Linked DNA regions of Homo sapiens. The protein of the gene in region 1 interacts with the protein of each later gene in a biochemical or structural test. Each region holds a gene or a part of one and is shown on either strand. Other genes may lie near its edges.

Region 1 (4,363 bases):
TGAGATGAGCTTTCTGGATGACTGGTGGCCTCCATAGGAAAGGGGAATGGGGGTGTTTCTTCCTCTGTTTCCCACCTCTTACTCCCCTCTCCCTTTTGTTTAAGGAATTCTGGAAGTTGCTAGCAGCCAGGGTAACATGTATACCCCCTTGGGGGTGGTGGTGGGGTTATAGGAGGATCCCCTCACCTAGCTGTGTGGTGTATTTGGCAGACGAGAATTCTACCACTGAACCACCCTAGCACCTCTGGGTGTATGTGTACAGCCTGCTGCTTCAGGATCCTCAAGGCCAGTCTCGATGATATCCCGATCCACTGTAGCACTGTTTCCTGCCTTAAAGGTTTGGGACACTGAGATTAGATGCCTGAGCTGGGCCCATTAGAAGGAACACCTTAGGATAGAGAACAAGAAGTTCAGCCTGCTGTGTGCTCCTTGGGCACTTCCTTTAGAGATGGGAAACGGCCTCAACAGTTGTGACTTGTTCAAGGTCAAAGACCTTGGTGTCTGCCTTAGGTCCACTGCTCTTTGCGCCATTCAAAGCTGTGGGCTGATAACCACAGCACAAGCTGCTGAGCCCATCTGATAGTTCTCTCCACCTCGTTATGGTCCCTGTCCCTAGGGCATCCCCAGCTCCCCGTAGTCCCTCCCTGTCCTGAGCCTACACCTCGGCGGCGTTGGGATGAACTGACAATTATACCAGGAGGGGGTTGACAGCATTCGCCCCCTCCAGTGTCTAAACTCAGTTACTGGCACTCGGTTTTGTCTTGTCGCACTGCTCTGAGGTGCGCCAGTAGCTCTGGCGCCTCCGGCGTACACCACGCAGCCCACTACTGCGGAAGGAATGGGCCTGGCTCCAGGACCTCGTGGAGTCCGGAAGGTGCCCGGTGGTGGCAGAGCTCCCCAACCAGGGCTAGAAGCCGTCGCAGAACACCCGTTTTGCGGGAGGACAGGGGGCGGAGGGAGGGAGTAACAGCCCTGAAAAGGTTGGAAGTCCAGGGACAGCCCTGGGCTCCGTGGGGCAAAGAATTGGAAGCCGCCGATCCTCCGCCTTTATTCGTCGGGTAAATAAGGGTCGAGGGTACAGACGCACGGGTGTCTACTGCGGGGTGAAGGAGCTGCCGCAAGATGCCACCCGGCGCCGGCCTTTGTGGCTGCTGTCATGAATATTCACGATGCTTTGGGCCAATCAACGTCTGAACAGCTTAAAGCACACCAATCGGCTTACCGCATGCAGATAAGCATCGTAACGCGCCGCTTTTCCTGAAACGGGCGGGGACTGGACAGCGGCTAGAAACGGAACCCAGAGTCGAAGGAGCTTGGTTTCCGGAGGAGTGTGTCCGCGCAATTGAACGACTTTATGTCACTTCCTATCGGATCGGCGGAAGTTGCTTCCGAGCGCGTTGAGCTTTGGCGAAGTGGGTTCCGGTGGTGGCAGAGGTGCTTGTGTTTTTGTCGGTACAGGAGAGTCGCTATGGCGGCGGTGGATTCGGATGTCGAATCGCTGCCGCGTGGGGGGTTCCGCTGCTGCCTCTGCCACGTTACTACAGCCAACCGTAAGCGGTGGCTAGTGAGGGACCCGGGGGTGGTTGCGGGCTTTCGTCTTTTGATCCTGGCGAAAGTTAGGGTTATAGGTAGTCAGTCGTTCTTGTCAAGTTGATTGGTAGGGTCTCTCACCTCCGTTTTTCTCTGCAAGTCCGAGGGGATTTGGAGAGTCGGGAAAGTTCCACCACATTACACTCCTCAGTATATGAAATCTCCACAACGCAAGTTTAATTGTTTTATTACTTCTTTAACCATCATCTATTGGACATATGCTCTGTGCCTGGTATTCTGCTGATCTTTAGGGTGGGGGAGGGGGGTTCAGAGATGAAGGAGCTCACCGTCTAGAGAATGAGAAAGTTTCAATGCTTTATAGATATGTTCGGAGAACTGTGGGACCACAGAGAATTAGTAACTAAATCAGAGAAGCCCTACAGAGGACCTACTCAAAGGAGGGGATGGATGAAATAGGTGTGGCATGAATGACTAGACCATAAGGTACCAGTGAGGAAGAGACAGAAGATGGGTTTGGAAAAATAGACAAGGTTCTTGTATGACACACAAGGGGTTCACTGTAACTTCAAATTCCACTTTTTTTTTTTTTTTGAGACAAGGTCTTGCTCTGTCACCCAGGCTGCAGTGCGGTGGTGTGATCTTGGCTCACTGCAGCCTCAACCTCCCGGGCTCAAACCATACCCCTGGCTAGCCTCCCAAGTAGTTGAGTCTACAGGTGTGCACCACCATACTTGGCTAATTTCTTTTTTCTTTTTTTTTTTTTTTTGAGACAGAGTCTCACTCTGTCACCCAGGCTGGAGTGCAGTGGCACGATCTTGGCTCACTGCAAGCTCCACCTCCTGGGTTCACCCCATTCTCCTGCCTCAGCCTCCCGTGTAGCCGGGACTACAGGCACCCGCCACCACGCCCGGCTAATTTTTTGTATTTTTTAGTAGAGACGAGGTTTCACCATGTTAGTCAGGATGGTCTCGATCTCCTGACCTCGTGACCCGCCCGCCTCGGCCTCCCAAAGTGCCGGGATTACAGGCCTGAGCCACCGCGCCCGGCCTACTTGGCAAATTTTTTAGTTTTTTGTAGAGATGGGTTTTCACCATGTTGCCTAGGCTGGTCTCCAATTCCTGGCCTCAAGCGATCTTCCCATCTTGGCCTCCCAAAGTGCTGGGATTACAGGCGTGAGCCAATGTGCCCAGCCCTACTTTTGAAGTCTGGAATCACAGTGTTCCCTAAACAGGGTTTACTTCCATTCTTCCTTTTCACTGTGAATGGCACTATCACTGTTCATCCAGTAAGCCAAGCCAGAAACCTAGGAGTCTTCTTTGGCCCCACATTTACTTTGGTGACATCAAGCAGCTAACTCAATAAAATAATAGCAACGGTTAGTTTTTCAACATTTACCGTGTACCAGACTCTCTCTGCCAAGTGATATATCTGAATAATACCTGTGTGTGAGGTGCTAGATACTGATATTTCCATTTTATATCTGAGGAAGTTGATGCACAGTGAGGCTTCATAACTTGACCAAGGTCTCACACAGGTTGACAGAGCTGGGATTTGAACTTGGGCAATGTAATTTCAGATCCTGCCTTTGACATCACTATATTATACCATGTCCAAAGATGATCCACAAAGTATTCCATGATCCAAATTTTTTTAGTTCTTGTGTAGATGACCTGGATAAGTTACCTGTTAATTTGTTTCCAACTCTACCTAGCACAAATAGGTGGTTTAAGAAATACTTTACTATCACACTGTTCTTTAAGTAAAAATAAACAAAATACTTGTAGTGTAGCCAGTTCTCCTGGGAACCCTCGTCTCTACTAAAAATACAAAAATTAGCCGGGTGTGGTGACACACGCCTGTAGTCCCACCTACTCACGAGGCTGAGGCAGGAGAATTTCTTGAACCTGGGAGGCAGACGTTGCAGTGAGTGGAGACTGCGCCACTGAACTCCAGCGGGGGCGACAGTGAGACTCTGTTTAAAAAAAATAAATTAAAAAAAAAAGAATGTACTATTTAGACAAATGTATAAGAGAGGAAGGTGAAAGGAGCCAGGACTTTGTTTATTCAAAGGTCACAGTTTCTGTGGCTTGGAAGGATCAGTAAGATTTAGGTATGCAGAGAGCAAAGGCAGACACGTCGAAGAGTGCTTTGCATGTTTTTGTCTCACACTTGTCTTTGCAGGACCCAGCCTTGATGCCCACTTGGGAGGCAGAAAGCACCGGCACCTGGTAGAACTACGAGCTGCGAGAAAGGCCCAGGGACTTCGAAGTGTGTTTGTCAGTGGCTTTCCCAGGGATGTGGATTCTGCTCAGCTCTCTGAGTACTTCCTAGCATTTGGACCTGTGGCCAGTGTTGTCATGGACAAGGACAAGGTAAAGTGAATGGCTCTCGGGTTAAAGAATGAATCAGTGCTGGGCGCGATGGCTCACGCCTGTAATCCCATCACTTTGGGAGGCTGAGGCAGGCGGATTACCTGAGGTTAGGAGTTTGAGACCAGCCTGGCCAACATGGTGAAACCCCATCTCTACTAAAAATAAAAAATTAGCTGGGTGTGATGGCGCATGCCTGTAGTCCCAGCTACTTGGGATGCTGAGGCAGGAGAATCGCTTGAACCCGGGAGGTGGAGGTTGCAGCAAGCTGAGATCGTGCCACTGTGCTCCAGCCTGGATTACAGAGCAAGACTCCGTCTTAAGAAAAAAAAGAATGAATCAGATGTGCTGTGTACCAAAGAGACAAGAGAGAGAAACCAACAGCCTCTTTGAGCTGGTTCCTAATGTGGCTTATTCTTGATGGACATCACAGTACTTGGGCT
Region 2 (3,811 bases), on another chromosome or scaffold:
CAATTCCCCAGAAATGGTCCTCACCTCATTGACATATGCAGGAAGAGCCAAGGGGGAAACAGCAACTTGGAAATGACTATGACAGACTAACACAAAGGACAAGAAATGGCTCTCATGGGATGTAGGTGGAAGGAGAGGCCTCTGGCATTGGCAGCTCCCTACCAGAGGTGTCCTGCCCTCTGTTCTCTTGGGGTAAGGGAGCCACTGGGCAGGAGTAGGCAGTCAATTGGTAGAAACCACTTACAGGGAATCTTCTTAAATACTGTGTTGCACATGAAGCGCTGGAACCGTTCAGCGTAGAAGCCTGGGCGATGCACTGAGACAGTGTCCTGCAGAGCAGAAGAAATGCTATAGAGTTAGGAGGCCCGGCAAGAGGAACTCTAGTCCAAGGGCCATCTTCCCCCAGACTGAGCCCCTAGCAGAAGGGTAAAACCTACAGATGAAATAAACGGAAGGGGCCAGACGTAGTGGCTCACACCTGTAATCCTAGCATTTTGGGAAGCTGAGGTGGGCGGATCACCTGAGGTCAGGAGTTCGACACCAGCCTGTTCAACATGGCAAAACCTCATCTCTACTAAAAATACAAAACTTAGCCATGCATGGTGGTGGGCACCTGTAATCCCAGCTACATGGGAGGCTGAGGCATGAGAATTGCTTGAACCTGGGAGATGGAGGTTGAAGTGAGCTGAGATTGTGCCACTGTACTCCAGCCTGAGTGACAGAGCGAGACTCCATCTCAACTCAGCACTTTGGGAGGCCAAGGTAGGCGGATCACTTTGAGGTCAGGAGTTTGAGACCAGCCTGGCCAACATGGTGAAACCCATCTCTACTAAAAATACAAAAATTAGCTGGGCGTGGTGGCACGCGCCTGTGGTCCCACCTACTCGGGAAGCTGAGGCAGGAGAATCACTTGAAACTGCGAGACGGAGGTTGCAGCGAGCCGAGATCACGCCACTGCACTCCAGCCTGGGTGACAGAGTGAGACCCTGTCTCAAAAAAAAAAAAAAGAAAAAAGAAAAAAGAAAAAATTGCAAGAAACTGAGGCCAATCAGAAGTGATGGAGGCAGAAGTGTACGGTAAGAGAGCCTCTAGTATTACTACTTACTCCGTCATGTACCAGGGCTTTCCAAGAGTGCTCCAACTTCTTAACAAACCTGCAAGAAAAATGTACATCACCTACTCACGTCATTTTTAAATAAATGACCTTAATAACTTTATATTTTAGGGGGTTAAAGGGGTAATAGAAAATCTTGAAAAGACAGAAGCTGAGAAAGCACATCTACTGGTACACTGGTTTTCCCAAGAACAGGCATGGCAGTGCTGGTTCATCACAGAGACCAATGTTGTTTCTAGGTAAGTCAATTATTCCCCCCATGGGAAAAGGGCAATTTATGTCCCTGACAAATCAGGAACATGAATATTTATTATAAAAGGAGAGCTGAAGGAACAGATGGGCAAGACTGGAAAGGGTAGTTAAAACTGGATGATAATACTGAACCAACAAATCAAGTACCGTCCAGTCCTCATTAGTATTTAAAACCTTACAGGAACAAAACTGGGGTCTAACAATTCCAGCTCCTCCCTGATGATCACTCCATTGCCTCTTAGTTCCACAGTCTAATACATTTTACAGAACACAGTGACCCTCCTGTTTTTCCTCCTTGGAAAAGGGTAACGTTTCCAGTTGTATCCCCATGTGGAACATGACTCATCTCATAGGTTTTTGCAAAGAGCCAGACAGATGGCATATTCTACCCTGGTGCTTCCAAGGACTGACTCAGCTTTCCACAGAAGGTATACATTATGTCTGGGGAGATGGGGGAGGAAGGGTTATAAAGGCCGGGGAAAGAGGCAAAATCAAGGAAATAAACCATCTGAAAACTAATGAAGTAAGTAGCCAGACTGCAACTCACTGTTCTTGCTTCCGGAAGAACTTGGTAACAAACCTATCTAAAAGAGAAACGTGACTGGTTATCTGTATCCACCCTCTCTTAATTTGGGATCCATATGCTCCTCACCTGTAAGACTGTAGAATGTCAATGATGCCAATATAAAGCAGAAGCCTTTCCCCTTTACTATTCCGGGCAGGGATGCCACCCATACTGGAAAAGGCAAAAAGGAAAGGGTGAGAAAATCTGTTGGCTAGTTTAGTCAGATCAGGATGGGGAAGTGAAACCTACACATAACTGCCTCATCCTCCATAAACCAGAAGGTCAGATAATAAGTGATCAAGAAAACAAAAAGAGAAAAAAATACATTAAAAAAACAGGAGAAAATGAGATCCTTCCTCTAACCCCAGGAACTCTCTACAGTATGTATTATAATCTAGTTTTCTCCAAATCTTCTTGCCTACCTCTTCCACTCTGATTCCACCAAAGAGAATCTAAAATTGCCACTACTCAGCAATTTTGGGAATGCTCTCCTAATTAACTCAACTTCTTCAGTACTTTTGCTATCTTAATTTATGCCCACTAAGACACTCTTCTTGAGAGTCATATTACAGGATACCTTAAAAAAATGAAACAATCTAAGATATTTGTGACACTTCAGTAATTACACTTACTAGGCATGATGAAGAAGGATGCCTTCCACAAAGAAGTCTATAACAATTTTTTTTTTTTTGACACAGGGTCCCATTCTTTTTGCCCAAGCTGGAGTGCAGTGGCATGTACAGTGGCTCACTGCAGCCTTGACCTCCTGGGCTCAAGCAATTCTGCCTCATCAGCCTCCTGAGTAGCTGGGACCACAGGTGCTCACCATCACACTCAGGTAATTTTTGAGTTTTTGTAGTGATGAGGTCTCATCATGATGCTCAGGCTGATCTCAAACTCCTGGACTCAAGTGATCCGCCTGCCTCAGCCTTCCAAAGTGTTGGGATTACTGGCATGAGCCACTGTGCCCAGCCCTAATAAAGTTCTAATATAATTTGCAGACATGCATTTAAGACTATAATTTTTTAAGTCTTTAACTCTTGAACAGCTCTCCTTCCCACATATACTATAAACCCGAAATTAATCTTCTTTTCATTTTGTATTAAGAAAGCTCGTTCAAGCTCATTCTATACTTCTGTCAACAATAATGTTACTGATCCAACTGCTGAGTCAAGGCTACTCCTTTCCAGAAGCTGGGTCCCTTCCTAAAGAAAAAGTGCTGTGGCCGGGCACGGTGGCTCACGCCTGTAATCCCTGCACTACGGGAGGCCAAGGCGGGTGGATCACCTGAGGTCAGGAGTTCGTAGACTAGTTTGCCCAACATGATGAAACCCCTTCTCTACTAAAAATACAAAAAATTAGCTGGGTGTGGTGGCAGGTGCCTGTAGTCACAGCTACTCAGGAGGCTGAAGCAGGAGAATCGCTTGAACCCAGGAGGTGGAGGTAGTAGTAGGCTGAGATCGTGCCATTGCACATCAGCACATCAGCCTGGGCAACAAGAGTGAAACTAAAAAAAAAAAAAAAAAAAAAAGAAAAGAAAAGTGCTGTGGGCCTATGTTCTCCCCCCTAGTGGCCCTGAGCCCACTTACTGGTCATCAGTCTCCATGGTACCACCCCGTCGAGCCTCTCCCTGGATGGATTCCATGGCTGTGGAATACAGAGCCTTTTGGGGGGCCGGTCTTCGAGTATCAACTGAGTACTGTGTTTCACTGCTTAAGGGCTCTCGTTGTGCATGATCTATATTATGGATTGACATCAAGAGGCTGTAATCCATTATCTTGAAGCTCTGCAGCACCTAATGGAAGGAAAAAAACATGATCTGAGCCTTGGAAGAAATAAAAATATTTTTCAGGATCTCACAATTTTTTTGTTTTTTTGAG

What was found.
Region 2: the proteins of TUT1 (region 1) and PIP5K1A form a complex in vitro, tested with the Homo sapiens proteins (one study listed by IntAct).

What each region holds. Positions count from the first base shown.
Region 1 is NC_000011.10:62,588,591-62,592,953, reverse strand, and holds the start of TUT1 (speckle targeted PIP5K1A-regulated poly(A) polymerase), read left to right. Parts: upstream 1-1,430; 5' UTR 1,431-1,468; coding exon 1,469-1,550; intron 1,551-3,732; coding exon 3,733-3,923; intron 3,924-4,363. UniProt on the Homo sapiens protein: Poly(A) polymerase that creates the 3'-poly(A) tail of specific pre-mRNAs. Localizes to nuclear speckles together with PIP5K1A and mediates polyadenylation of a select set of mRNAs, such as HMOX1.
Region 2 is NC_000001.11:151,236,473-151,240,283, reverse strand, and holds part of PIP5K1A (phosphatidylinositol 4-phosphate 5-kinase type-1 alpha), read right to left. Parts: intron 3,727-3,811; coding exon 3,521-3,726; intron 2,103-3,520; coding exon 2,019-2,102; intron 1,155-2,018; coding exon 1,106-1,154; intron 330-1,105; coding exon 245-329; intron 1-244. UniProt on the Homo sapiens protein: Catalyzes the phosphorylation of phosphatidylinositol 4-phosphate (PtdIns(4)P/PI4P) to form phosphatidylinositol 4,5-bisphosphate (PtdIns(4,5)P2/PIP2), a lipid second messenger that regulates several cellular processes such as signal transduction, vesicle trafficking, actin cytoskeleton dynamics, cell adhesion, and cell motility.